5 separate regions of the Homo sapiens genome follow, and all the other regions are linked to region 1. Evidence: fine-mapped expression QTL. A gene starts in region 1. Each other region holds a variant in brackets. All regions are shown on one strand. Distances are from middle to middle.

What was found. PIP is the estimated chance that this variant, and not a neighbour inherited with it, causes the effect.
Region 2: its variant is fine-mapped to the expression of RNF141 in whole blood (INTERVAL, PIP above 0.99).
Region 3: its variant is fine-mapped to the expression of RNF141 in whole blood (INTERVAL, PIP above 0.99).
Region 4: its variant is fine-mapped to the expression of RNF141 in whole blood (TOPMed, PIP above 0.99). The same link has a PIP of 0.9 or more in blood mononuclear cells.
Region 5: its variant is fine-mapped to the expression of RNF141 in hypothalamus (GTEx, PIP 0.96).

What each region holds. Positions count from the first base shown.
Region 1 is chr11:10,537,391-10,543,552 of GRCh38, forward strand. It overlaps RNF141 (ring finger protein 141), which reads right to left and starts at 3,797. Exons shown (of 6, transcript NM_016422.4): 1 at 3,732-3,797. It overlaps IRAG1-AS1 (IRAG1 antisense RNA 1), which reads left to right and starts at 3,846. Exons shown (of 4, transcript NR_046375.1): 1 at 3,846-4,152. RefSeq lists an enhancer at 3,873-3,982.
Region 2 is chr11:10,614,334-10,620,495 of GRCh38, forward strand. The region is part of intron 10 of IRAG1 (inositol 1,4,5-triphosphate receptor associated 1); the gene reads right to left. Among named protein-coding and RNA genes, the nearest start is that of LYVE1, 49 kb to the left of the region's middle. RefSeq lists a silencer at 3,185-3,385. The variant CT/C (reference allele first, on the strand shown) is at 2,697.
Region 3 is chr11:10,509,247-10,515,408 of GRCh38, forward strand. RNF141 (ring finger protein 141) reads right to left here. Exons shown (of 6, transcript NM_016422.4): 6 at 2,427-5,820. The coding sequence ends at 5,670. Among named protein-coding and RNA genes, the nearest start is that of MIR4485, 4.0 kb to the left of the region's middle. RefSeq lists a silencer at 1-170 and an enhancer at 1,733-2,643. The variant A/G (reference allele first, on the strand shown) is at 3,004.
Region 4 is chr11:10,635,196-10,641,357 of GRCh38, forward strand. All of the region lies in intron 2 of IRAG1 (inositol 1,4,5-triphosphate receptor associated 1), which reads right to left. Among named protein-coding and RNA genes, the nearest start is that of IRAG1, 55 kb to the right of the region's middle. The variant T/C (reference allele first, on the strand shown) is at 3,147.
Region 5 is chr11:10,573,527-10,579,688 of GRCh38, forward strand. IRAG1 (inositol 1,4,5-triphosphate receptor associated 1) reads right to left here. Exons shown (of 21, transcript NM_130385.4): 21 at 1-3,049. The coding sequence ends at 2,806. All of the region lies in intron 1 of IRAG1-AS1 (IRAG1 antisense RNA 1), which reads left to right. Among named protein-coding and RNA genes, the nearest start is that of LYVE1, 7.9 kb to the left of the region's middle. The variant A/G (reference allele first, on the strand shown) is at 3,322.

The sequences.
Region 1 (6,162 bases):
GTCAACCAGGCTGAAAACTTTGAATAATATCTACATTACTTAACAAAGAAAAAAACTGAACTTTTGAAATATATAGTCTCAATATTTAATATAAATACCTATGATAATTTAACCAACGTGGTATAGGGGAGATAGAATTTCTCTCCCTCTGCTCTCTGAGGTCTCCAGCTGGGCCCAAGAATTAAACTAACCTAAGACAGATTAACAGGAGAAAAACACACAAATTTTATTTAGTAATTTTTATACATACACAGGAGCCCTCAAGAAAAATAAGGACTAAAAAAAGTAATTAAGGCCAAAAGCTTACATAGTAGATTGGACAAAGGAGAAGTAAACTGTGAAAACATGACAAGACACAAGGGTTTGGGCTGGGCCAGTTAATCACAGAAAAGTGACTAGGAAGATAAGGGTTACTTTAAGAAGGCTTCTTTGAACACATTTCTCTCAGCTTTGATTGCCCACTTCTAGTAATGATAATGTCTTCCTCCTGGCATAGAGAGGACATCTTTCACATGGCTGTTTTATCTCCAGCCTTCAGGAAGAATTAGGAGGGTCAGTGGGCACTTCTTACATCTGCTGCTTTTCAATGTGCTTTTAACTCAAAATAATCCTTATGCCAAAGTGGCGTATTTTGCTACCCTACATTACCCACCAAAACCATATTTCAAAAGAAGAGTTAGTTGCTTATTTATTGAGTTATTAATAGAAAATGATCCCCTTTGTTTCAGCATTGTTTTCATCTGCTGCCCTAACTTTGAGTAAAGTTTATAATTTGAGGCAGCATATTAACTTGTTATCTTGTAACTGTACTTGGTATCTGGGAAACTTCATCACTAACTCCTTGCATTAAAATGCAACAGTATCTAGAGACTACCTGAGAGAGCCTGCAGAAGTGGTTTTCAACCTGGTTCCAGAAAGAGGGCTTGACATTTAGTTTATTTTGAAAACCATAAAATATTGATAAATATTAACATCTATCACTATATGGGTGTGAAAATAAGATATGACTCTGTGATCTGCATACAATATAAAACCACAACACAGAGTGCATGTTCACGAAAACAATCTGTTGAGGCCATCCTCTAGTCAACCACCACAGCTTTTCAGTGTCCCTCTTTGGTGACTGCACATATTTCTATCATACTATGACATTCGTTAAGTCACTTGGCCATTTCCCTCTAGTGAGCTTCTTGAGGACAGCAGCTATGGTCTGTCTTCTGGCAGATACACAAGCACTCAATAGATGTTTACTGAATAAATGCAGTAAATACCATTGGCAGTTTTTGTTTTATTATTATTCACTTAGTATTCTTTTGACTTTTGTTAATTTGGTCAGTCATCTATTAGTACTAGGTTGGAGAGAAGCAGAAGTTAAAAATATGTATGAAAGAAAATGTAAAACTGTGAAAATCTGTCATTAAATTAATGCTTATGTAAACTGGGAAACATTTACTATTTGATTTTAACAAGATACTCCCCCCTAGGCCATGCAACAGTGGTATTGCATAGAAACATAATTTGCAAACCACTGGCACAGAATTCAACAAAAGATGAATTTCTGGTCAAGATTTCTCAAAGAACTAGCAGCTCTCATATTATTGTGCCACCTATAACACAGTCATTTTTTGCAAGATAAAAATATGCTTTCAAAAAGCATTTGAAGGATTTTCTAAATAAAGAACTGTTATTTTGAAATGCACAAGATCAAGGATTCCAAAAATGCCACATTCTCTAGTGGGTGGTACATAGTGAATCACTTATTTTTCTAACAAATGAATTGTGGAAGTTCAAATATTCCTTATAAAAATATTAAAATTACATCATGGGTAACTGGCAAAGCAAAAACGAAAAAACTGCTCAAAAACTCCTAAAAATTTAAACCATAATTCATTCATAAAATAACTAAAGCAAAATGGAAAAGGCTGAAAATGCACCAAAATGACTAAATGACAAGTACTGCACTGTAGTATTTTAAAAACCTCTCTGAAACCAGTTCTCCATCAAATTTTGTATCAACCTCACCTAAAAGGATTTAATTGAAATAAACATCAATGATTTTCACTGTCAAGTCAACTTTAACATCAGTAATAAATACCAAGTACTACTGACTGGGTCCCTAAGGATATTATTTACTTTATTACTCATTGTTTACTCAAACTGTAGATCTGTAAACAGATATCAACTTTTTTTTTTCAAGACAAGTTAATATAGATACATAGTGAAATAATTAGGCCAGAGTCACTATAGAGTCCAGAATGCCTGTTCCAGAATCAAAGATCTTGATCAGAAAAAGATACATACATATATATTAGAGAGAGAAGGAGAGAGAAACTACAAAAGGATAGAGTGCCGTACTAGGAGATTAAGAATATGGATTTCTCACAGTAACAGTGTGTTTACTAAATGCATTTCATATTGGAAAAAGCATATTAGACTTGTAAGAATTCTCTCTGGACCTCCCTTGCCTTTTTGGGAAGGAAAGCGTGTTTGTATTTAGATGGGAACCAAGAAGGATCAGGCTACACACATCGAATATAAAGTTCATTTACACCAAATGACAAATATTAATTTTTGAAACATATAGTCATATTCTTGAGAAAAAGTTCTAGAAACTGAAGTCAGGCAATGTGAAAGAAAAGGATAAAAATCCATACTATTTTTGAGCTCTGAATTCAGAAAGCATCACTTCTCAGACGGGTGACTTCGACATGGAGGTGACTAATTTAGGATCGTCGGCCGGTGGCAGCTCATGCCCCCAGACAAAATTCTGAATGGGTAGAGGTCATTTTATAGCAAGAAGAATGGGCAGAAGGGAGTGAAAACGAATAAATTCGTGCTGAAGATGTAAGAATTATAAACAATTGAAAGTGTTCCAGCAGCTTTATATATATGCCAGAGGCAAGAACTGAATTAGCTGGCACCGCTAAATAGGACAGTGTCAGAATATAAAAGGTACACTACCTTTAATAAGGGGCATAGGGATCGATTTCAATAACAATCGTAAATCCACATTTTGTAACGCCGAGACAAATAACTGAAGGAATAATTTCAAAAGCTAACACAGAAGCCTTCTGCTCCTGCTGTGTAATCACTACCTTCTTATTATTAGCAAGAAAACGTTCTTTTCTTAGCCGGGTCTCAAGGTAGCAGCTAGTTTGACAAGGAAAGACCTTTGGGAAGGGTAGCAGCCTAAGCCAATTCATAAGTGTGGGGCTGGCTAAGTAGATCGACGTGGCTATTTCTGAGCTATCGTCCCAGGCAAAAGGTTTCTTATTTGGGTGTCCAGCCCGGCGGAGACCGAGCCCGCGGGCCACCCTAGCGCTCGCTCTGGCTACGCCGCCTCAGCCCCTCCTCAAGCGCACCTGGACATTTAACCAACAGCTAAGTCCGGCGGCCGAATGACTGAGCCGGCGGCAATATTCAAACAACCGTTTTGGGATAGAGAAGGAAAAACTCTCTCCGGGTCCCTCAGAACCACCCCGAGGCGGGACAAGCCACCGCCACCCCGGGCAACTGGAACCCGCCGGGCAGAAGACGGGCGTCAATAGAATGGCCTCCCCAGCCGTCCCCACGCCCCAATCCGAGGCCCGGGGAGGGCGGCGGGGCTAGGCCTGTCTCCCCGCGGAAGCCTGGCTCGGCAGCGGAGGGCCCTCTGGGGTTTCTCTTCCCAGACCCAGAGTCCTGGAGCAGCTAGCAAGGGAAACACGAAAGGACAGCGCCGCGGAGCTCACCCCAGGTTCAAGGCATCGCGCACCCTGCGGCAGCGGCTGCGCTGCCTCAGCCCACAGCTCAGACCTGCGGGTGGCCGCGACTCAGGCCGGGACCCGGTCGCACCTCTGTGACGCAAAGCCCCGCCCCCCGCGCGTTGCCGGGAGACGGCGCCCAACCTTCCTCTGCAGCGCCCCTACCGACCCGCGCTCCGCAGCTCCTGAGGGCTTTCGAGCCCAGATGGTCATCTGAGACGAGAGGTGGCGGCGAAGGAGAGTCTCGCCTGTCACGCTCCCGGAGCAGGGGCTTCATGAGGTGGCCATGGAAACAGCCTGGCAGACTCCCATCTCTCCTGGTGCCATCTCCGGAGCGGAAAGTGGAGCGCCCCGCTGGCGACCAAGGCCGCACTGAGAGCCCTGGTTTGGTCAACAGTTGGGCTCCAAGGTACCACTTCCCAGACCTCCAGCCTCCCCACTGATGATAGATACACAAAGGTCATCTTGTTTCTTTATGAGGCAATGGATTGTGTTCACCTAGCCGAGTTGTTAAGCATAAGAGAATGTATGAAAAGTAATTACAAGGTTCAAAATCCTGAGCTTTGATAAATGATAGATATGATGATGAGCACATGTTAGTGATATTACTGCTCTGCGGGACGTCTGAATCAGTAATTGCTGTCTTTTAAGCATCTGTTGTGTGCCAAATACTGCACTAGGCACTTTACGGGCATTGCTCTTGTTTAAGTCGTCTGGTCAAAGTTGCCTAGACAATAAACAGCAGAGCAAGGATTTTAACCCAGGTACAGCTGACACTGCTGCCTCTATGCTTAGCAGTTAAACTGGTTTTTATGTTTCTTGTTTGTACACCCCTCCTTCACCAGTCACTTGTAGATTCACCTTGTGAAGAGCTAATTCTTCCCTCTAATAATAATACTCTTTGACCATTTACTATATGTCAAACCGTATTTTAAGGACTTTAAAGGTATTAATTCGTTTAATCTTCACAGCAATCCTGTGAGTAGGTATTATTAATACCTTCACTAAGACACAGGCTTAGAAAAGTCGATTAACTTTTCCAAGGTCAAACAACCATTAAGGAGCAGAGCCAGATTCAAACCCAAGCAGACAGAACCCTGAACCTGTGTTTTTAATTCCTGTTTTAAACTGCCTCGGTAGTACGGTAAGACTTCATTAGCGCTAGGTCCATGCCTGTTTGTGCACCATTATTTCCCTGACAGCCAGCATGGTACTTGTTCAATATTTGAACATTTGATGAATATTTGAACACTGGAAAAGGAAAAAGCTTAAAAATGAAGTATAAATAATGATTTAATAAATTCCAAAAGATATCAAATTCAACAAGATTCCATAGTTCAGCCTAATCCGGGCCTGGGAGTTAGAAATATTACTCTGTAAAAATTGCCTTCAATTAAACATTGTATTGGAAGTTCTGGTCAATGAAATAAAAAAAGACAAATATATAAAAGGCATCCAAGTTGGAAAGGAAGTTGTAGCACTGCATTTATTTGCATAAGAAAATTGTGGAATACTACAAAAAAGCTGCTAGAACTCATAAGTGAGTTTACAAAAGTTGCAAGATACAAAATCAAATATACAAAAATCAGTTGTATTTCTATATACTAGCAATGAACAATTAGAAATGGAAAATTTTTAAATATCTCTTATCAGCAAAAAAAAAAAAAAAAAAAAAAGCAGCAAATTTGGGACAAATTTGACCAAAGATGAGAAAGACATGTATACTGAAAACTATAAAATATTATGGAATAGCAAAGACATGGAATCAACCCAGGTGCTTATCAATAGTGGATTGGATAAAGAAAGTGTGGTACATATACGCCATGGAATACTATACAACCACAAAAAGGACTAGATCATATCTTTTGCAGCAACATGAATACAGCTGGAGGCCATTGTCCTAAGCAAAATAATGCAGAAACAGGAAACCAAATACCGCATGTTCTCACTTATAAGTAGGAGCTAAACGTTGAGTACACAGACACAAAGTTGGGAACAATAAACACTGGGGATTCCAAAAGGGTAGAAAAAACTACTATTGGGTACTATGTTCACCACTTGGGTGACCTGGATCATTAGAAGCCTAAACCTCAGCATTGTTCGATATACCCATGTAACAAAACTACACGTGTACCCCCTGAATCTAAAATAAAATAAAAAACATTGTTAAGAGAAATTAAAGAAGACCTAAATAAATAGAGATACATTATGTTCATGAATCAGAAGACTGAGCATTTTTAAGATATCACTTCTGCCTAAATTGACCTACAGATTTAAGGAAATTCCAATAAAAATTCTAGCAGATTTCTTTTTGATGGAAATGACCAAACTAATTCTAAAATTTATATGGAGATGCAAAGGACCTAGGATAGTCAAGACTTTCATCAAAAAAAACAAAGTTTTGGGACTTACACTACCT
Region 2 (6,162 bases), 77 kb after region 1:
GATTAAATTTAAAACCTATAATGCAAAAAAACTACCTCATAATTTATAGATTTCATGCCATCCCCATCAAGCTACCAATGACTTTCTTCACAGAATTGGAAAAAATACTTTAAAGTTCATGTGGAACCGAAAAAGAGCCTGCATTGCCAAGACAATCCTAAGCCAAAAGAACAAAGCTGGAGGCATCATGCTGTCTGACTTCAAACTATACTACAAGGCTACAGTAACCAAAACAGCATGGTACTGGTACCAAAACAGAGATATAGACCAATGGAACAGAACAAAGCCCTCAGAAATAATACCACACATCTACAACCATCTGATCTTTGACAAACCTGACAAAAACAAGAAATGGGGAAAGGAGTCCTATTTAATAAATGGTGCTGGGAAAACTGGCTAGCCATATGTAGAAAGCTGAAACTGGATTCCTTCCTTACACCTTATACAAAAATTAATTCAAGATCAATTAAGGACTTCAATGTTAGACCTAAAACCTAAAAACCCTAGAAGAAAACCTAGGCAATACCATTCAGGACATAGGCATGGGCAAGGACTTCATGTCTAAAACACCAAAAGCAATGGCAACAAAAGCCAAAATTGACAAATGGGATCTAATTAAAGAGCTTCTGCACAGCAAAAGAAACTACCATCAGAGTGAACAGGCAACCTACAGAACAGGAGAAAATTTTTGCAATCTACTCATCTGACAAAGGGCTAATATCCAGAATCTACAAAGAACTCAAACAAATTTACAGGAAAAAAACAACCCCATCAAAAAGTGGGCAAAGGATATGAACAGACACTTCTCAAAAGAAGACATTTATGCAGCCAACAGACACATGGAAAAATGCTCATTATCACTGGCCATCAGAGAAATGCAAATCAAAACCACAATGAGATACCATCTCACCCCAGTTAGAATGGCGATCATTAAAAAGTCAGGAAACAACAGGTGCTGGAGAGGATATGGAGAAATAGGAACACTTTTACACTGTTGGTGGGACTATGAACTGGTTCAACCATTGTGGAAGACAGTGTGGCGATTCCTCAAGGATCTAGAAGTAGAAATACCATTTGACCCAGCCATCCCATTACTGGATATATACCCAAAGGATTATAAATCATGCTGTTATAAAGACACATGCACACGTATGTTTATTGCAGCACTATTCACAATAGCAAAGACTTGGAACCAACCCAAATGTCCATCAATGATAGACTGGATTAAGAAAATGTGGCACATATACACCATGGAATACTATGCACCCATAAAAAAGGATGAGTTCATGTCCTTTGTAGGGACATGGATGAAGCTGGAAACCATCATTCTCAGCAAACTATCGCAGGGACAAAAAACCAAACACCGCATGTTCTCACTCATAGGCGGGAATTGAACAATGAGAACACTTGGACACAGGAAGGGGAACATCACACACCGGGGCCTGTGGTGGGGTCCGGGGGATGGGGGAGGGATAGCATTAGCAGATATACCTAATGTAAATGACGAGTTAATGGGTGCAGCACACCAACATGGCACATGTATACATATGTAACAAACTTGCACGTTGTGCACATGTACCTTAGAACTTAAAGTATAATAATAAAAAAAAGTATATTACTAAGTGAAAAAAGCAAGGTTTGGAACACCTTGTATAATATACTACGATTTATGTTTAAAAAATCCACTTTTGGCTGGGCGCGGTGGCTCTCGCCTGTAATCTCAGCCCTTTGGGAGGCCGAGGCGGGCGGATCACGAGGTCAGGACATCGAGACCATCCTGGCTAACGTGGTGAAACCCTAGCTCTACTAAAAATACAAAAAATTAGCCCGGCGTGGTGGCGAGCGCCTGTAGTCCCGGCCGAGGAAGGAGAGCGGCGTGAATCCGGGAGGTGGAGCTTGCAGTGAGCTGAGATGGCACCACTGCACTCCAGCCTGGGTGACAGTGAGACTCCATCTCAAAAAAAAAAAAAAAGAAAAATCCACTTTTACATATATGTCTATATTTAGAAATGCTTGGAATATATCTAGAAGTTACACTAAAACATAGTGACAGTGGTTGCCTCTGCTACTGGGGGACAGAGATGTAATGAGACTTACTTTTTCCTATGTCTCATTTTGTACTTTTTGAATTTTGTACTATGGACATGATTATTTATAAAAATTGAATTAAAACTCATACCAAAGCAAAAACAAAAAACAAAAAACAAAAAACAAAAAACTACCTCAGTAACTCCAAACCCTTTATGCATTTCATAATACATTTTTTATACTTTTAGAAACCAATTTCTCTTCTTTGGAGGAAGCAGTTACCAAAATTCAGCAAGTCTTATAGTTTCACTTCAAGTTCAATTAAATTCTAATAGTTTTAATTTCAAACAAGTATATCTAGTATAATCTCCCTCTTTTTCCCTTCCTCCTTCTGTATTAGTGGGGAAGGAGGTGTTTAGTGTAAGCTATTTTTACTTTCTTCCTTGTATTTTTCACTATTGGTTGAATTTTTAGATATGAACATAAGCCACTTTCAACAAAAAGTAATAAATTTATTTTCAAATATATCTCCCAGGACTAGCTCATTCCAATGAAAATATTTGTTTCTGACCATGTCAGGGACTTGGAAAAATTACTTTTGGAGCTCTGAAAGATGCTCTGAGTCCCAGGATGGTTCCTAAAAGTCAAAGCTGCTAGTTGGGGATAAA[CT/C]TTTTTTTACCTCTTTCTTCTCAGGGAGGCCTCTTTCCTGCCCAAGACCTGAGGCTCTGAGTCTAGACTGGGGGTTTTGGAAGGACTGTCCATTCGATGTACTTCTCTGCCTCAGCCTACGTGTCCCTCAAAATCCAGGTCCAGATAGCCAACTACCTTCTAGACGTTGCCACCTGGTTAAGGAGAATAAAAATCATTTCAAGAGCCACCATTTACTGAACATCAACTATGCAGTAGATACACTTTGTCATTTCTTACAATAGTACTGCAAATAAAAAATAGCTTAAACACCTCCTTCCCCACAAATACAGAAGGAGCAAGGGAAAAAGAGGGAGATTATACTAGATATACTTTTTTGAAATTAAAAGTATTAGAGTTTAATTGAACTTGAAGTGAAGTGAAACTGTAGGACCTGCTGAATTTTGGTAATTGCTTCCTCCAAAGAAGAGAAATTGGTTTCTGAAAGTACAAAGAATGTATTATGAAATGCATTTTCTGGAGAAACTGAAGCTCAGCTGAGTTAAAGTGATTTACTAGGGTCCAGCTTATCAGCAGTACAGCCAGAATGCAAAACCAGGTTTGTCTGTTGCATTCAAGCTGCTTTCCGTGGGCATTTGACATGTCCAAACTCAAATTCACTGTCTTCCTTCTCAAGCAAACTCCTCCTCCTGTCTCACAATTCATCACCCTCACAACCATGCAGACAGGTGCCTGGTGGTATTCCTGGTCTGCCTCTCAACTCCATCTCCTCATCAAGTCCTGACAAGCTGATCTCCAATAGCTGTCAAACTATCCTGTCCACATTTACTACCACCTCATTACCTCTCACCAGGCTATTTCCCTATCCTTTTACCTGGTGTCTCCCTGTCTCTAGCCTCTGCTGTTTCAGGCCAGCTCTCACAATCTGTCCAGAAGAATTATTCTAAAATATAGATTTGATCCTGATGCTTCCTTACCTGCAGGCTTCTCTTTCCAAAGTGTCCTAAATGAAATTCAAACTCATTAATTGGCCTTCAAAGCCTTCAATTTCCTTGGTCTCAGCCCACTGTTCCCACCTTGTTGCCCATCTCTCTGGGACGTGTAGCTCACACTTAGTTCACATGACATTCCTTCTGTTCCTGAAGTATGCCAAGCACTAGAAGATGCCTACATGCTTTTGCTTCTGCTGTCCCCCTGCTTGGGATGACTTTCTCTTCCCCAGCTCAAGGTGGCTCCTCCTGAAAACCTTCCCTGACTCAACCCCACTGAGCTAGCTGCTTCTTCCTCTTTGTTCCCAGGTACTTTATGGCCTGTTAAAGTTTTATCACAATTTATCGTAGTGACTTTGTCTATTCTTATGTTTCCTCTCCTAGACAGTGAGCTTATTCGTTCATACATTTGTTTAATGTTTATTGAGTGTTTACTATGTCCCTGGCAATGAGCTGGGAGCTAAGGATACAATGCTAAGCAAAACTGACATGCCACATCCTCTGGAGCTCATTATTCAGGGGAACAGAGATTAATCAGAGAAACATCCAAACAATTTCACACTGAGAGATTTTACAAAGGAGAAGGGATCCGAAGGTACCAGCAAACCCTTCCCAAGAAAAGTGACATGAGCAGATATCTAAAGATTGAGTTGGGAGTTCATTAGGCAAAGAGGGAGAGAGGAAGAACATTCCATGCAGAAGACAGAATGTGCCATGCGTAAGAAGAGGAAAGAATGAGCTGCCGAAGGCAGGCCAAAATATTGTGAGTGAGAGTGAGTGTGGCCCTAGAATATGCTGGGGAAGTGGGTGGGGTTAACTATTCAGGGCCTTGTAGGTTCTACTGAGGATTCAAGTGCTCTTCCTAAGAGCAGAATGAAGCCTCTGAAGATGCTGAAACAGATTTGCCTTCTAGAGATCCCTGCGGCTGCTGTGTTGGCCATGGTGTGAGCTGGGTTGGGGGTTGGGAGTGCAGGGAGAGGGGACCAGGTTGCAGGCTGTTGAGTTAGCCAAGGGGACTGATAATGGTAGCTGGGACAAGGCCTTCTCCCTGATGGTGGGGCCTGAACCCTTTTCACTTAATGCATCCCCAGCACACAGCCTAAGAACTGGCCCACAGTCAGTCTCACATATTTGGCTTGAAATAACCTGCAACTGATCAAAGATCAAAACAGCATACAATATAGTTCCTGAGAAGGGAACTGATTGGGTTGTTGGAAAGACTAGATGCAGCACAGAAATGAGCCTCCCAGTCCTCACAAACTGAAGGAGAGCCAAAATTCTTCAGACTCCAGAATGTTCTGATAAGTATCTTTTCCCATTTCTCAAAGGAACAGCCAACAACCATCATAAGAGACTGGATTTTTCCCCATGAGTTCATATGCAGGGCTGTATTTAGTGCCTATAAATACAATCTGAGCCAGCTCTCATAAAATGCTCCCAAAGCCTTTTATCCTGGGTATGGGAGGGGACGGGGCTCTTTGATGGGGCTTTCAGAATATAAGAAAAGAAAGTCACAAGTCTGCAAGTATTCATTAAACACGGAGGGTTGCCCACCACATCTCTAGCACTGTGGAGCACAGTGTACAAGAATATCCCATTTGGTTGGCAAGATAGAGTTCTACAACCTAAATGACAGAAATGAAAATGTATGCCAGGTTCCTGCTGGAATAAAGACCAGTATCACATGCAAACATTACAGCAGCTTAGTGAAGTAGGTACTGTTATTAACCTCCTTTAAAAGATGAACAAACTGAAGCGTGGAGAGAATTAGAACCTTGACCAAGGCTATGCAGCTGGTAAGTGATGAAGTCTGAGCTCTTAAGCATCCAGACCCTAGAACTGAGAGAAAATGAGAGGGAGTGTATATTGTTGGACACTGACCATGGTTAATTTTATTTTTAAAATTTGGTGCTTATAGGAGTCACATTCATTTGCCTGATAATTTTACTTCTAAGATCCATCTTATGCCCTATTAATATTGGATAATAAAGTTTTGCTGTAGGTAGTGGATGTCTAAATTGGTATAATTTTGTAAGCTAATCTGGCAGTGTGCACATATACATTTAAAAGTAAATACTTTTAACCAATCAATTGCAAGTCTAGAATAGTAGCCCATGGAAAAAACAGATTTCTATAAAGATCTATGTAAGATAGTATTCATTATAACAGTGTTTTTAATAGAGAAAAAAAGTGGAAATATTATTACAACTGGGGAGAAGTAGTATTTTTATAATGATTGAAATAATAGAAGACTTCTCAAAGGGAAAGATAGGCAAACATGATTATGTAAAATCTTTACAATTCCTCTAAAATAACACAAAACGTATTAAAAAGCAAAAAAAAGATTGAATGAAAATATATTAAAATACAGCCCCCCCCAAAAGAAAGAAAGCCAATTAAGGGCTAATATCTATAATGTATCAAGTTTACATATATTACCAACAAAAACCAAACAAATCAACGAAAAACCCCAGACCTAAATGGGTACACGGGCAAA
Region 3 (6,162 bases), 28 kb before region 1:
GCTACACTCTGGTTCGTCCAAGTGCACTTTCCAGTACACTTACCATGTTACGACTTATCTCCTCTATATAAATGCGTAGGGGTTTTAGTTAAGTGTCCTTTGAAGTATACTTGAGGAGGGTGACGGGCGGTGTGTACGCGCTTCAGGGCCCTGTTCAACTAAGCACTCTACTCTTAGTTTACTGCTAAATCCACCTTCGACCCTTAAATTTCATCAGGGTTATCGTAGTTTTCTGAAGTAGAAAATGTAGCCCATTTCTTGCCACCTCATGGGCTACACCTTGACCTAACGTCTTTACGTGGGTACTTGCGCTTACTTTGCGGCCTTCGTCAGGGTTTGCTGAAGGTGGCGGTATATAGGCTGAGCAAGAGGTGGTGAGGTTGATCGGGGTTTATCGATTACAGAACAGGCTCCTCTAGAGGGATATGAAGCACCGCCAGGTCCTTTGAGTTTTAAGCTGTGGCTCGTAGTGTTCTGGCGAGCAGTTTTGTTAATTTAACTGTTGAAGTTTAGGGCTAAGCATAGTGGGGTATCTAATCCCAGTTTGGGTCTTAGTTATTCTGTGTTCAGATGCATTAAAGCCACTTTCGTAGTTTATTTTGTATCAACTGGAGTTTTTTACAACTCACATGAATTTTAGCTTTATTGAGGGGAATTGATCTAAAACACTCTTTATGCCGGTTTCTATTGACTTGGGTTAATCGTGTGACCGCGGTGGCTGGCACGAAATTGACCAACCCTGGGGTTAGTATGGCTTAGTTAAACTTTGGTTTATTGCTAAAGGTTTATCACTGCTGTCTCCCGTGGAGGTGTGGCTAGGCTAAGCGTTTTGAGCTGCGTTGCTGCGTGCTTGATACCTGTTCCTTTTGATCGTGGTGATTTAGAGGGTGACTCACTGGGGCGGGGATGCTTGCATGTGTAATCCTACTAAGAGCTAATAGAAAGGCTAGGACCAAACCTATTTGTTTATGGGGTGATATGAGCCCGTCGAAACATTTTCAGTGTATTGCTTTGGGGAAGTAAGCTACATAAACTGTATGGGGTGTCTTTGGGGTTTGGTTGGCTCGGGGTATGGGGCTAGCAGCGGTGTCCTGCAAGCTTTTCTGACATCTTTTCTATAGCACTTTGTGCTTTTATTACATTGCTATACTTAATTGGCCTTTTGGGGGACAAATCCCTACTTTCCTTTGTGTTTGCAACTGGAATAAGAGGCAATTAATTGTATACTGGCTTAGGTTTCTAAAGCAACAGTTTTTGAGGCAGTTATCCCTTCTTTATCCTTAAGGGCTCAAGTTCACTTTATGTGTTACTTCAAATTGTACCGCTGAAACCGATCGACATCATTGCTCTTTGCCTCGTGAAAACAAATCACAGCTCCTGGGTTGTGATTTTTCACGGCCTCTTGGATTAAACAAGAGCCGAAAGCACTTTTCTCTTGCTTTCTCTTTACTTCTGAGTGTTGGTGAAACAATATTCTTCATTTCCTGCGTTTGAGACATGACTGAAGGTGATATACCCAAATACTCTGCCTGAACTATGATCATTATAAAGAACAAGTGTAACTAGGGGAATACTAACCAGATAAACAGTTCCTTGGAAATTTTTGCAATTAGTAAGATAGAAGATGACAGAGAGTAAGACTATAAACAGCTGCAAGCGTGTCAAAACCTATCTCTGCAAAGGCTTTTATGTATTTTGACAGTAAAATGTGCATTTCTCCACAGTATGATGATACAGTCAATTTAACTACCAACTGCCACTCATTCTTATGTCCTTGCACTTTTCAGCACTAAGATTCTACGATGTTTCTCTAATTACATTCTTATATTTTGGAAATGATTTTACAAGGTAAACAAACTACAATAGGGTTGAGCATTTTATTTTTGCTGTCTGTTGGGGTAGGGGTCCACAACCCCTGGGCTGTGGACAGTACTGGTCTGCTGCCTGTTAGGAACCAGGCCGCACAGCAGGAGTTGAGCCGCGGGCGAGTGAGTATTATTGCCTGAGCTCCACCTCCTGTCAGATCAGCAGCGGTATTAGATTCTCAAGGAGCATGAACTCTACTGTGAACTGCGCATACGAGGGATCTAGGTTGCATGCACCTTATGAGAATCTAACTAATGCCTGATGATCTGAGGTGGAAAAATTTCATCCCGAAACTATTCCCACCCCAACCCTGGTCTGTGGAAAAATGGTCTTCCATGAATGCAGTCCCTGGTGCCAAAAAGGTTGAGGACTGCTACAGCAGGGTGAATAGACATACGAACAAATGAGTCTGTTGTCAGCTGCTTAGGTTTGTATTGTATCGTCATTGTGTGGCCCAGCATGAATGTGAGTGACCTGTTAACTTCCCTCATCTGCAAGTAGTTTTCTTATTCCCGGATAGACTAAGCTTGACTTCAGACAATAGCAGTTAAAAATGCAAATTCTTCAGACTACCTTTTAATAAACTCAACTTCCCAATGTTAAAAATCACTGAATCAAAAGATATTTTCAAGCAGCCTTTTCTCCCAGATATATATTAGATATAAGGAAATCGAGTCCAATTTGAAATGAATTTTAAAACAGCACACAAACATCACAAGCCCCCAGCGCACAATATAAAATAGTTCTCTAAGGAATATAAACATTTAGTATATTAGAATGTGAAATTACATAGGAAAATAATCTCTTCAATTAGCTAAAATCACTTGCGAAAGATTATTTATTGCACAATTTATCAGTGGGTACTAAGAATAACACAGATCCTATTATTCTCAACCTCTAAATTCAGTACATAGTAAAATTCATTTTCTCAAACTAAGGTTCTATACATAATCGGAGTAAACCCTCTGTTACTGAGTTAGGATAGGGAAAACAAATTCCTTAGAGTTCATGAAACCACTTCACAAATCCTAGAAGGCACACATTATATTTCCTATCATAGTAAGTACATTTAAGTACTTCATATTTAAAAAAGACAAAGCTGTACAGAATACAAAAAGTGTACATTTCATCCATTAA[A/G]CAAATTTACAACTTTTACGATTAGTTATTACAGTAGAACTGACCTAACATTCACATCTAAATAATTATCACCCAGTTCAATAGAGCGAACAAAGAGCTGTGCTCATTTATTTATTTGATAAGGCTAATAACATTTTATATTCACAGTAGATCAGTAAGTGTCTTGGAGCTCATATTGTAAAATAAAAAGGTTTGGGCCCTATTGAGTCACTGGGCTCATTGTTAAATAACTCCTTGAAAGGTGAAGGATTCTGGGGGATAAAATCATTGGCTATCCCTGGAAAGATCCAAAACTCTGTAAGGTAACTCTGTTCACTTTTCAGAAACATTTTAAAATTAGGTAATCTGAATTAAACTCAGCAAGTCTAATCTAAAAGGACAATTTAAAATCTTAGAGCTGGAAAAGATTTCAGTGGATCATCTATCCCAAGGTTTTCAAAATATGTTCCATGGAATACTAAGAATCTATGGAGGAGATACAGGGTTCTGCAAATTTGACTTGAATTTAATTAAAAAATTTTTTTAAAAAAAACGACTCCCACTATATGTGTGTTACTCACCAAATTCAAACATGCTGGATATCACCAATGCATTAATGTTTTTATTCATTGACTTAATCACATTTATAGTATATAAAGTTTATATAATAAGGAAATTTATAATAATATGACTTTTATATAGTGGGGTATAGGGTATGTGTGTATGCACACGTGTTTAAAGGTTCTGTAAGATTTTCCTTGAAAAAGTTTTTGCTGCTGAAATAGTGTGAAAACCACAAATAAAGTCTCAGTTTCTAAAGTAAGAACACATAAACAAGAGTAAGAGACTTTCTCAAGGTCACACAACCACCAAGTGCATTGCCAGGTTGATATGATGGAACCCCTGGTACTCTGCTTGCATAAACCTCCATAGGGAGTAGTTAGCTATTTGGTACTTAGCTGTCCCATTATGAATGTCAATGGATTAGTCTTCAGTATTTTTGGGGGCGAAATCAAGCTACCCCTGGCCAGATGTTTTTCCTTGAAATTGATTTGAATTTTATTTGCTCGCCTATTAAAATCCTACTATCCAGAAATTCTGTCATCAATAAGTGGCAACTTAAATTGTGTACCCTGGTTTAGGAAAATAGTAATATTTGCAACTTATGAATGATAAGTCAGAAAAGTTACATGGAATGTTAAATTTTAAAGGAGATAGGCCCTTGTTTTATTACATGCCGAAATGTTAATGTTAGAAATTTTAGTTCATAAGCAAAAAAAATGGTTGAGGTGCAACTGAAGATCACAATTCCATTATTACTATATTGTTTCAGAATATTTTAATGGAAAGAGTATTTCAATGGAAGTACAGTGAAACAGTAGGAATGCCAAATTATCTTCTAATTTTCATAAGTATTTTATGTATATACGGTAAAAAAGCCTCACTCTATTTTCTTGTGTTTTTTTTTTGATTAGGAGTCTCGTTCTGTCTCCCAGGCTGGAGTGCAGTGGTGTGATCTCGGCTCACTGCAACCTCCACCTCCTGGGTTCAAGCAATTCTGCCTCAGCCTCCCGAGTAGCTGAGATTACAGGCACCTGCCACCATGCCCAGCTAATTTTTGTATTTTAGTAGAGAGAGGATTTCGCCATGTTGGCCAGGCTGGTCTCAAACTCCTAACCTCAAATGATCCACCCACCTCGGCCTCCCAAAGTGCTGGGATTACAGGTGTGAACCACTGCACTGGCCTCTTGTCTCTTAATCTAAGAAATTTGAGGACTCTGAAATCTCAGAAAGATGTTTTCAAGTTAAGGAAATAAAAGCACCATAAACCAATATTAAATGACCTATAGTAATTTAGAAATATAAAATTTAGTATTTGTGATGCAGAATAATTTCCTTCTGAAACTCCAAGATGTGTGAGCATTATCAAAGCCATTTAGAACAGTTACCCAGCTGTGGGAAAGCATTTCCAGAACAGCCAAGAAAATTCCCCAGGAGAAATCCATTTGCAAAGGAAAGTCACACCCAATTTTGTAGACCTCACCCAAATTATACAGTATGGCAAAAACAAACAAACAAACCTTTAAGTACAGTAGTTCCAAAACACACTGCTAAAGTTATGAAATAATTGTGGATCATTTCAAGTAAAAATTATTAAAGGAGCAATAATTAACCACAAGGGGGCATATATATATATACTCCTTAGATTCCAGCAGAAAGACTAGTTTTAAGTAGTAACATGCACGTTGAAGTATTCTACATTTTCAGTCACTTAAACTTTCCTCTCTCAGATGGCTACAACTTTTTAATATTCGAGGTTTATTTTATATCTAAGTAAAAAGATTCCAGAATACTCCTGCCCTGCAAAACAGTAGTGTTTTAGAAGCCTCTGGAAGTGTTGCTGTTACCTTTAGCAAAGAATTCAAGAGCTATTAGTTGTAATAATACAAATTTGAACAGATAAATAATAGGAAAATATGGTCTAAAACAGTAGCAAATTTTAGTACCACAAATGGAAGACATGGGAAGTTTATTTTTAAAAGGGGGACAAATGATCAGAATAGCAAAAATAAAAGAGTGGGGAAAATGGATTTTCCTGTGTCTGTGCCAGTGCCACAACCCTACATTCTTCCCCCATGACCAAATATTTGAGCCCACAATAGCAACAGAAGACTTTCACTTCAAGGTCATGGCCTGTGGGGCTGGCCTGCCTCATCAGCCATGTTAAGAATATAGTTAGCCATATCATCTTCAGTGGGTGCATCTGATACCACCCAAGATTCATTTGCTCCAGTCATCTGTAGGCGACAAATAGGGCAATTCCTGTGTCGATCACTCCTATTAGAGAAGTCAAAACAAAACAGTTTGCTTTCTTCTTTTTTAAAAACAGGATTTTATTTAAAGTAATACATGCACATGGCTTTTAAAAAGGAAATAGCATAGAAATATATAGTGAAAAATAAATCCCTCCCTCCTATCTCAATCTTCAATTCTCTTTCCCAGGGGCAACCACAGTTACCAGTTTCTTATATATTCCTCCAGAGATAGACTAAGCTGGATTAAGCTTATGTGTACACACATGCACGCACGTGCACACACACATTTCTCCACTTGTCAATATATCTTACAGACTAGTATGTATCAGCACCTGTTAGAGCTGTTTATTCTTTTTAACATACA
Region 4 (6,162 bases), 98 kb after region 1:
TTGTTAGAAGACTCTCCTGGGGTTTTCTCTTAGGTCCTTCCATCAACTTAAGAGGGTGCCTGTCATTTTCCTTCTCCTCCTTCCCACCCCCTTGACTGGCATGTGCTGCCACTGCTCCCTCTGTGAGCACCTGACTGCCTTTGCCAAAGGCCTGCCTCCTAGCGTCCCAGAGCATGTTGCTGCCACCTCCACTATTGGTGCTGCCTCCCGCAGCTTCAAAGCAGTGGGTGCCCACTGTCTCTATTGCCACTTTCCCTGGTGGGCCAAATCCTTCTAGAGCCCCTGCATATGAAATGTTTTCACCTCCACTAGCCCCACTGGCGGTGGGAGCTGCCAATGGGCTGGAGCCTCTGGCAGAGCCAGGCTGTGTTCTTGAGCCTTCAGTGTGCAGGTGTTGGTTCCCTGCAAGGTAGGGAGGAGGCCTGCTCTCCTTTTGACATTATGCCTTGTTGTGAAATGGGTCTCATACAGTGCTATCTGGACTTCTTACGTCCCACAATTTTTAGTGAACCCAGCTTTTCCCATTTTCATTTTCATCTCTTCCCTTCTTTGGCCCCAAGCATAAGGCCACATGAGCTGGAGAAGTCTCTGGGTGAGAGTCCAGCTGGGGAGCACCATGCTGCTTCTCTTGTGGAAAGGATGCTTTTATGTGGAAACCCAGAGCCAGATCCTTGAGGAGATGTTCATTGGGCTCTGTGTTCTTATCCGGGAGCGATTCAGTGCAGAAAGCTACAGTGGCTGAAGGAAGAGGAGGCACTCAGAATCTCCCGGGACATGGAAGGGAAGCTTGGGCAGGGACGTGGGCTGTGTAGAAGCAGAAGGAAGCAGCATTGCCTATTGGAAGGGTCAGACAAACCTGGGCTCAAATTTCAACTACTAGCTATGTGTCGTGGACAAGTTATTTAACCTCTCTATGATCCATGATTATAAAGTCTAACTCACAAGGTTAGTGTGAAGATTAAAAATAACATTGATAAGGTACCTATGCATGATTGACATTTTTATTTATTTAATTTATTTAGTTTCTTCAGTGCAGTGGCACAATCATAGCTCGTTGTAGCCTCTGCCTCCTGGGCTCAAGTGATTGCCCTGGTTCAGCCTCCTGAGTAGTTGGGACTACAGGTGTGCACCACCACGCCTGGCTGACTTAAAAATTTTTTTTTTAGAGACAGGGTCTTACTATGTTGGCCAGGCTGGTCTTGAACTTCCAGAATCAAGCGATCTTCCCACGTCTGCCTCTGAAGGTGCTGGGATTAAAGGTGTGAGCCACGATGCCAGGCCATGATTGATATTCTAAATGTGCTAAGCATCTAGCATATGATTAATGTTTTAAATAAATGTGTACATTACTTTAGATTTCTTTCTCTTTCAACAAACACTTTATGGTTATCCACCATGTGCCAAAAGCAACTTGAGATATGAAGAGAAGACCCTAAAGGGCTCGCAGTCAAGCAAGGGATACAGGGAAGTAACTCATAATAAATATAAGGAAACAAGGGATGGACCACATTCTGTGAAAGCTCAGAGGAAGGAAAAGAAAACTCTTTAGTGAGGGGAGTTAAAGAAGACTCTATAGAGGAGTGGACATTTGAGCTAGGTCTTGAAGGATGAATAGGAGCTTGCACGACAAAGATGTTAGAGGACAGGATTTGGCCAAAGGGAATCGCATTAGCAAAAGGCATTACTGGGAATCAGGGATTTGTCAGTGTAGCTGGTGCAGGTGCATGGACTATGACATGTGAGATAGGAGAGGTCAGGGCTGGGGGAATTGTGAAAGTACAATAAGAGATTGAGCCAGCTTCTGAAGGACCTCGAAGCTACTCTAATGAGTTTGGTCTTTATGGTTTTGGAGATGGGAAGCCCTGAAGGTTAGGCTTGAGAATAACTTAACTACCCAAAGGGAAATACAGAAATGTTGACAGCAGATCATCCATGCATCCCTCTATTCACACTGGTTGAGATGACAGAAGAGGCCCAGTTATTAGAACATCTATCATCCCCTATAGGAATTCTGAGGAGCTCCCTGGTAAATAGGAGCTGTGTCTCCATTTGGAAACCTAGAGCTGGCCAAGAGGGAGTGACAAGAAGTCAGCACGTGCTTGTGGCTGAAACCAAGACTGGCTGACCTGTCCTCATGATCCCAGAGCTCCAGTCCCTCTGAGGACACAGATACCCATCCTTCTGTCAAGGACTCCCCCTAGAAGAGACACCCAGGGAGTTTTCTGAAAAGCAACAACTCATTCTCTGGATAGTATGCCTTGATGGGCTGGTGATAAGCTTGTCCTCCTGTGGCTTTATCCCTCCGTTCCTATAATGGCACAATGGCCAAAGGCCTGCTCTCTCTCACAGGAAGATTATGCAAGTAAAAAGAAATGACGAATGTGTATGCACTTTGATAAGTGTCATATGGTCTACAAGTACCCTTGAGTCATGATTATTATTAAAATGAATGATGGCTCTATTCAAGGTGAGCCAGTTTTTCCCATCTTTTGTTCAGTGGGCTCCCCTGGTGGGAGGCCAGCAAGCAGCAGAGGCTGGGGTTTCCAGGGGACCAGAAGAGAAGTGGAACAATGATCTGGGGCCCCGAGGACATGCAGTGGAACAGTATTCACAAGGGCTGGGGAGGTTAAGAAGGGGAAGCAGTGTGTCAAATGGCAGGTAGCCAGATAGAGGGGGCAGCAGGCAGGGCCAGGGGCAGGTGCCAAGCTAAATGGGAGAGCCAGGGAAGAAGAAGGAATAGGGAGTTTTCTACTGTGTGGGTTTTCTGGTGAGTAGGAAGAGCTGAAGTCTTTCCAGAGGAATCTCTTCACATCATTAAAAAGGAGTAGCATTAGCAAAAGGCATTACTGGGAATCAGGGATTTGTCAGTGTTTCTGGCAGGTGTGATCTCTTGGATGTCAATTAAGCAATCAGCATCCTCTGATGCATATTCTGAGCTCAGAGGTGCAAATTAGAGACCCATGTGCCTGTTTGCTAGTAGTGTTTACAAGTTTTTAAATTAGTTATCAACATTCCATAATTGTAAGAATTCACATAAAGGTCTGGATAGCCTGCTTTTCCTTAAACTGAAAGATCAAACAATCTTAGGCCCATATTTCTGCAGAGTAACCAGGTTTGAGCTATCCTAAATTGGCTTTCTTCAGTGA[T/C]TTGTGCTCCCTGGCCCCAAATGCATCTGAGTTACTGCCCTGTGTCATGTAGTTTTCATCCTGGCCTGGTTTTCCAGAGCACAGGAGGTTTGTGCTTAAAATCTCTCCCACCCACATCATCTGGGCAGCCTCATGCCTATCACCATGGGAACGCCAATGGAAACTCTGACTGTGCTTATAGCATGCGCGGGCTTCTTTCCCTGGATTTTATTCTGACTGTGAAAATTTGAGCTCTGAAAGTTGCCTTTTTCATGTCTGTCATATTTAGAGAATTTCTTTCTTGTATGAGTCCTCTGATGAACAAGAAGAAATGCATTTTGTCTAAAATATCATTTTTTACATGCATTCTATCATATGGTTTCCACCACCCCTTGTGGTGGGGCTTTACAAATTCCTGGCATGCATTGATGAGGATAAGCTGTGTCTATTTAAAGGGGCAGGATGGGCCAAACATGAGCTAATTCCATGTTGTATTCTGAAAAAATAATTGTGGTGGTATTAGGAGAGTTATAGCATATATCCATTTCTAACAGTTTCATATATTCAGGCTGCTAAATAAGTAAAATACATATTTTATTTTATTTTTATGTATTGTTTTGAGATGGAGGCTCACTCTGTCTCCCAGGCTGGAGTGCAGTGATATGATCTTGGCTCACTGCAACCTCCGCCTCCCGGTCAAGCAATTCTCATGCCTCAGCCTCCCGAGTAGCTGGGACTACAGGCATGCACCACCATGCCCAGCTAATTTTTGTATTTTTAGTAGAGATGGGGTTTCACCACATTGGTCAGGCTGGTCTCCAACTCCTGGCCTAAAGTAATCTGCCTGCCTTGGCCTCCCAAAGTGCTGGGATTACAGGCGTGAGCCACCATGCCTGGCCTTTGTTTATTTTTAATCTTATTGACACTATCTACTTCTCAAAGCAACTTGAAGTAACCAACAATAAAATATAAGATATAAAAACATGAGACTATATAAATGGGGGAATGATGGATGATTTGACAAACATAAATATCCCTAGCAGACAAGGAGAACCTCATGCTCCTAACAGTCTATGGTTGGGAGTTGTGGTTAAACTATTTGCCCTGAAACCTAATGAAGCCGTGATCCACGTGGCGCAGACTCTGAGAAGGCTCGCCTTACGGAACTGTTCAACAGAAAGAAAACCAGCATAGAAGGAACTTCATTCTTTACTCTCACCTCTCAAAGAACATGAAAGGGGAACAAATCTTCACTCCCATCCTGACCTCTCCTCTGCCCTTTTCTCTTTCCTTAACGATTCTCACGCCCCCTCTCTGATGACTCTTCCCCTGCTTGCCTCCCTGCCCAGATCCTCTGTCTACCTTCTTTCTCTTTTTCTCCTGCTCCAGCCTTTACTCCCCCAGCTCCATCCAGTTATTTTTTGTGCAGATTGTCTTCATTTGTTTGTATGATTGACTCACAAACATTTACTGAAGAGTCTTACAGAGCAAAGACCTTCTTGGAGAAGAGAGGGGCACTGGGCTGGCAATGATCAGATTCTGTTTGGCGTCCAAGAAAGGGATGTGGTCTGTGAACACTCCCACATTATTGGACCTTATTCTGTCCAATCATCCGGCAAACATTTATTGAATGCCTATTGTGGCCAGGGTCTATGCTAAGGTCTGGGAAGACAAAGGTGAACTGAGCGGGCCTCTGCAATGCTTCCCATTCATTAGCATGAAGGAATGGGGAGAGAAGGGGAAGTAACCTCCACTGCTATTACTAATAGTGCCCTCGGTGTTGATACCTACCAGGTAAATGGGTACAAGGCACGGGAGTGAGCTGCCTTCTGATAGGAGCTTTCTCTGCTTGCTGGCTAATGGTTACCTGAAGCAAAGCTCTCCTGACTGTAGGCATCTCACTGGGGAGGAGGACCATGGCAGAGGTGCCCATACAAAAAGGCAGAAACAAGCCATGGGTGGCAAGTGCCAAGCAGGTAACCGCAGACACTCACAATTCCAAGTGGCTTACAAAGCAGGAAGCATAAAGCGATTAGGAGGAAATCCTCTAATCCCTTGATGGAACATCCTGGAAGGTTCTTCACACTTGCCTTCTAATGTGTGCAAAATACACAACTCATAAAATCATAGTGTTCTTTCCCTCATCAGCTGACAGAATCGTTGAGCAAGCTCTGGGCAACTTCTCCTTTTCTGCAAAACTGTTTTGGTGGGAACATTCAGGTCTTGTGGGGGCTGTTTTTCACTCTATCAGGGACTGGGGAGACAGTAATCCAGGAGAGAGTGTGTGGGAAGATTCTAGGGGCCCTCTGGGGTGAATTCTGCCAGATTTTCATGCAGTGCACACACGCATCCCTGCTCCCATTCTGAGCTGTCAAACACAAGGCAGGCCTTCAAGAAAGCTTGGGAGAGCAGTAAGACCAAATAGCGTTGGCCAGACAACCTACTGGCTTAGGGGCTTCAGGGCCTCAGGCTCAGAAGCCACACTACCTTATGGTATACTTTTTAGCTGGATAACCTTGGGCAAGTTACCTTGCCTCTCTGTGCCTCAGTTACCTAATCTATAATGGAACTATCTCACAGGGTAGTTATAAGAATTAAACAAGTTGATATAGAAATAGGATTTCTGGATAAAGCACAGGATGCCCCAGTTATATTTGAATTTCAAATGTACAACAGATAATTTTTAGTATGTGTGTCTCAAATATTCCATGGACATAACTGTATTCTCTCTCTCTCTCTCGACTGAATCTTGCTATGTGCCCAGGCTGGTCTCAAATTTCTGGGCTCAGGTGATCCTCTCACCTGAGTAGCTGGGACTGCAGGTGTGAGCCACCATGTACAGCATATAATCATATTTTCATTTTCCAAATCTGGCAGCCCTAGATGGCAAGCCTGTGGAAGTGCACCTAGCACTGAGCAAATGCTCACTAAGCATTAGATGTTATGTTCCCTTATTATTCCCTTCGGGATTGAATTAATGACTTTGGCATTTGGTTTTGAAAAGATGGTTGCTCTTAGTTCTGGGTCTCCTCAACCA
Region 5 (6,162 bases), 36 kb after region 1:
TGAGCACTTTTTCAGCCCCTGTATATATGGCTATTCTTATGCTCCCTTTTGGAGATGTCCTTTTCCTCGACCTCCCTTGCTTACAAATGGAATAGGGTGGGAGAGGGCCTGTGCCTGGAAGTACTCTTGCAGGCTTTTCTGTGGGGCAGCTGGAGGTGCAGGAGCTCTCCATAACTGCCTTCCTGGCCTTTGACTCATCCAGAAACAAAGGTAGGAAACTTGTGACCAAGTGAACAATGGGGCCAGCTGAGCCTGGCCCTGCTTTAAGGGAGGCAGAGATTGAACATTCCCCACCTGGAGTTCTGCTTCCACGGCCACTCTCTAGAACTCTATTTGCATCCTGTCTTTGGCTCTGAGGGCCTCATGTAGCTAAAGCTCCTTCAGTTGTATCCAGACCCCCTGGAAGAGGCCGGGCAAATCATCCACTTCTGCCCCCAGAGTCCCTCTGCCCTGCTCTGTAACTCTTTACCTTAATGGCACATCCTTGATCAACCCTGGCTTGGGCCTCAGTCATTTTCTAGCTACTGTAAAGGATGCCCCCTTCAATAAACATGCTATTTTAAAGTGGGGCATGCTTGGGGTGGGGGGTCTCTCTGAAGGAGTGACTGCATTGAGCCCAGTCCTTGAGCTTGGCAATGGTGTTGCTAGTCTGGTCTCATTCCTGCTCTCTCACAGAGTAGACTGAAAAACAGAATAAGCTGAGGTTAAGAAAGATGTTGCTTTTTGCATTGTGATGGTGCTGGTACTGAGAAGCATGCAGCATGTCAGCTGTCCCCAGGCTGCTCTCCACCACCTTAAATGTTTGCTTGTTCTTTTGAGCAACATTTAATGACACCCTCCCAAGCGTCAGCCACCATGCTAGGCACTTACCCAAGAGATGGGTAAGACATGGTTCTTGTCTTTGAGGAAAAATGCTAGGGGAGATGGATACATAAATAGGCCATGGTATACTATAGGTAAAGGTCAATAATAATAATGTTTAAAACGTGCCAGAAAGCACAGAGGAGTGTGTGACCTATTATGTTGTGTCTGGTGAGGAGTATGGAAGGAAGGTCATCAAAGCTGGTATGGAGGGGATAATTTTTGCACTCGGTCGAGAAGAGTGACCTGAAGAAAAGAGAAGAACAGCTGGAAAAAAAACTAGTGAGTGGAGGTCCAGCACTATGAGAGAAACTGTTTAGTTGGGGAGCCAGAGATGGAGTAGCTGATGGGCCACTTGGGGGAATGAGACTGAAATGTGAGGCTTCCAGCTAGGAGACCATCAGAAGAGTCAAGGAGAGCACAGCTCTGGAGCCAGCCTACCCTGGGGTTGAGCTCCAGCCCCATGATTTACTACCGGGGTGTCCTTGTCAAGTTACTTGTTCTTTTTGTGCTTCAGTTTCCTTATTTGAAAATGGGAAGGGTAATATCCACTTCGTATTTTTTTTTCTTTTTCTTCAGGACTTAAATGAATTCATACCTATGTAATACTGAGAACAGTGCTTGGCTCATAGTAAGTCGTATATGAGTTTTAGCAATGAAAGCAAACAATATCAATAACAAAACAAAAATGCAAAACAATGACAACAAAACCCACATGGAAATCAAACCTCTACAAAACTGATGAAGGCAGTGGCTGTAAAAGTGGGGAGAGAAGTCAAAATGGAGAGGGGATGTGCTCCTTCAGTGTTGTGCTAAATAACTGGGGATGCTCTGAAACACCCCTAATTATACTGGGGTTGGAAACCCCATTTGAACTGAAGCACTGAGGTGCAAGTTTACTCTTGCATGTGGTCACACACAGAGTAAGAGACTGAAGCAGAAAGCACATCTTCTCTCCTCATTCACCTGTGAGGTGGGTTAACTGTTTTCAAAGAGAGAATAGGGAATAGATTGTGCTGTACAGCAGCTCAGAGTTGGCATTTGAAATGGAGACTAGTAAGTCTGCCATTGAAGCCATGAGTTTTCTGTGTTTTTAAAACATCTTCAATCCATGTGGACAGCTCATTGAACAGGTGCCTGGTGACTGCCCCACACTGGTGAAAATCTGTGGGTTGGCTTGGCATGCATCTTATTTATCCAGAGGTACACACCCAGAGCACACTTTTGAAGGGTTGTTGGCTCTGTGCACAGGCATGTTGTGTGTGTGTACACAACAGTATGTGTGTATGTGTGGACAGATGCGTATATAATAATTCATATCTTCCCATTTCAAGCACTGAGCTAAATTCAGCCTATACTTTTTTTTTTTTTTCTGAGAAGCCTTTCCTACTTCTGTAAAAAGAAACTCTCATTCCAAAGGAAAGAATGGGAGGCTGAAGTTATTGAAAATGAGATGGGAAATGGGAAGATAGTCACTTTGCAACTCCAAATTCCAGGTCTGATGCTTAGGGTGTTAGTCATTAAGCAAATTCTTCCTGATAACCAATTACAGAGAGGAAAAAAGAGAGTAAGTTTTTTACTGCCCCCTACCTCCTCCTCCCCCGTGCCCCGCTCCTTACCCCCAACCACCAGTGAAGGTGTTTTAGTTCTCCCCAGCCACCTGAGCTAGGGGCAGGAGACCTTCCCTTCCAATAGAGTTCCTTGGTGAAGGTGACTTCTTCATCCACTGGATGCTTTCCCAGGGCAGTTTTGTTGATCCTCCAAGAACATCAAGTCACTGTGTATGAATAGCTCCCACAGAAGTGCCGAGTGTTAAAAGAACCCTTCCTCATGACCTGATGGGATGGGCGGCAGTGTGTCCACACTTGGGCCTGACGTTATACTTGGGGAAAGGGTGGTAGTCTGAGTGTCTCAGAGCAGGGCACTGGCTAGGTGTGAGGTTTCCTACTGCTCTGTAGGCTGCTCATGCTGGAGTCCTGAGCTCCACCAGGAGTCCCTCTGGGCTGCCGAGCAAGTGGATCTTCCAAGGGGCCCATCAGCCTGCTCTGCACAAGAGTTATAGGAATTGTAGAGCCCCAGCACAACAGTCAAGACCAGCATCACTGCAGCCATCATCCAGATCACTTGCCAGTGCTGACACAGTTTGGGATACATGACTTGTAAGAAATGGACCAATTCTTCAAGTTTGCTGTCAATGAAAAAAAATATGCAGAGGCTTTAGTATACTGGGCACACATATGATACACAGACCCACAGTTCTCTCTGCGGATAGCTTCCATGCTGTCTTGAGCAATAGTTCTCAAACTTAGCTGTGCCTAGATTGGGTTGGCAGCAATTGTTCAAAATACCCCAAGCATACTAAATGAGAATATCCAAAGTTATGGTCCAGGAATCATTGGCTAAATTTTCCCAGGTGATTTTGATTCCACCAGTCCACAGCCTTGAAGTTGAGAGCTACTT[A/G]TCTAGATCATTCTACTTAATTGTTTGATCATCCATCCATACATGCCCTCATCTATTCACGGGGTGATTACTGATATCTGCACTCTCCCAAGCCCGGGGGTACAGGATTGGTTGGCCATGCATCTTTTTAGCACCTAGCTGCATTAATGATCAGTTCCAAGCTCTAACCTGTGCCTTGCCTCAGATGCGTAATTCATTGTTCTCAGTTCCACATCTAACTGTGTCCAGAGTAGAAGGACTGTGCTAAACTCTAAGCAGCTTGATATCCAGTGATAAATGACAAGGGACTAGATCAACCTCAAGAGTTCACTTCAAACCATCCAAGAGCAGGCAGAAGATTAGAAGCCTCTAGCAATGTCTGGGTGGTTTGTTCATGATGTTATCTCAACCTCATTAATATTTATTCTCTAATTTCTCCCTCTTCCTCCTCTTCTTCCTTCACTCTCTCCACACTTCTTTCTCTATCCCTTTCATCTCTCTCTTCCTCTCCATTTTTGCCCCTTTTCCCTCTTGATTCCTTCCCAACTGTCTTTCATTTTGTCCTCTCTCTCTCTCTGTGGTGTGGTAAAAAGACACCGGGCAGATGGCCTGCTTTGACAAGTTCATTCTAGAGCTCTCTGAAGAAGCCCTGAGCCCCTTCATTAAGCCAGGATTTCCTGATGTTTTTAACCTCTAACCCAATTTAAAAAATAATATGAAAAATGAGAATACTGAGGATTCCTGAACCAAGGAGGTGGGGAAAGTGATAGAAGTGCTTTCTGAAGATCCTGAGGCTCATACACACACAGCAATGACCAAGCCATTGGCTGAGAAGCGGAGAGCTCAAATTTTGAGGTAGCAGAAAATGCATGACTAACAAAGGATTGACAGACTCAATAAATGCCCTCCTTAGAAAGGGACCAGATGCTCAGAATGCCTGCCTTGGATGCTAGGGCCACAGAGAACATTGACAGGTTTCCGTTCCATGCGGGAACCCCATCAGATCATTTCAGTCACAATTAAGGAAAGCACGAAAGTGAACACATTCGCTGATTTGAAAATCATTGACTATTTTCACAACTGTTGGGAAGGCAGGGTTTAGAAGTAGAAGGTTATTTTCTCTCAGCCCTTTGTAGATTCTCTAGATTCTATTTAGACAGAGTTGGATGCTAAAATGGAGCCTTTGGGGCTGTATTTCCATCCTCCAAAACAAGGTGCCAGAGTGGCTTCTCCCTACTCTAACCCCACTCTTAAGTGTGGCTCTGGAGGAAGAGACCAAGATCTGTCTGTGTGACCTTAGCTGGTCACCCATGCCTGGCCTATAAAAGAGTTTAGAAATAGATTAGAAATAGAATTTCTTTAGAAGTCAATTTTTGGTTATAATAAGTAAACTTCTGTTTCCTGAGAGTTATTGGAAAAGTAAAGGAACCTAAATGTCCTCTTAACCCCATAGAACTGGTTTGAACAGCCGTTAGGAGAAAAGACAAAAGTTTTATCTTGTCCCTTATGAGTCTCACTTGTTCAATGTCAGAAGACTGTGCTTTCTGTTTTAATATGGTTAAAATATTGGGGTTTACCCAAAGTTTATTTAAACTGATCCTCAAGAGAGCAATATTTGTAACATAATTGTTATATATAACAGATACGTGACTCAGACAAAAATACTTTAATGTGTGATGTTGAATCTCTTAAGCGATCAGCAGCTGGGCTGAACCCAGTGTTTTAAAAATGCAATAAGTAGGACATGGAACTCTTAATAACCTCAAACCTTGCTTGTTAGTGAGGCACCAACATTTCAGGGAAGAAATCATGTTTGAGAGCAGGTGCATGATAAATGTTACAGGCACCATTGCCACTCACTGATGACCAGGAGCTGGACAGAAAGGAACCAAGCTAAGCCTTACTTCCCCTGGGGTTTCATGAAATGGGAGGGAGCTGACAATTGCCTGAGATTGAATTAGCTAGATAAGACATTGAGCCCCTTGCTTTGCAAACCAGACTGTTTATATTCCATGTACTCTCTCTCTGTTTATTTCTCTTTTGTTCTTTCTCAGTGTTTGGAAGTGTTAGAAGTTCCAGTCTGTCTCTGCTGTATTCACGGGTGCCAGAGGAAAGGCTTTTTGTCTAGGGCTTTGCTTGACTGCATTAAAGGGGAGGAAGGCAATGTGGTGGACTGAGAAATATCAGCAGAGAACCCTCAGGAGGGAGATGAGGCCTAAGGAGAACAGGATCTGGTTGCTTGGAGTAGGGATTGCACTTTAATTGTTAAACTTGGAGGTTCTTTCACTGGGGAGACAGTGTGTGATTTGTTTTCAGTGGAGAAGCATTTCTCCAGTTCTCCTAACGGCTCTTCCCCTGAACAATGGGGTCGACCAGCATGGGCTGAGACCTCTGACTTTAGTTGAATTCTCCACCAACTGGGCTCTATTGATAGCTCCTGTGTGCCTATCCATTTTGCTTCTAATCTTCACTTCATTACCTATTTGTTGCATGCATGTGGTTTCCAGAGTTTTCCAGCAATGAGGCACAGATACATACCCAGATTAGATAATATTTCAGCAGCTGATTAGATATTTTGTCTGGAGCTGCCCTGGACCCCAAGATATCCCAGGGGTCTAAAAATAGATTTTGGTGAAGGTTTTCCAAGGTGGCTATTACTACATTTTAAAAAATCAAAATTCAAGACTTGTGGTTTAACTATACTAATAGAGACAACATAGCTGAATATATGAAATTGGGCTGTCCTGAAAATCCAGAATGTTGGCATGGTTATTATATCTGTGGGGTAGAGTAACACCTCATCTATGGGTGCTAGTTTATCCTATCCCTAAGCGTGAACTTCTAGGGGATAATTCAGGCCAG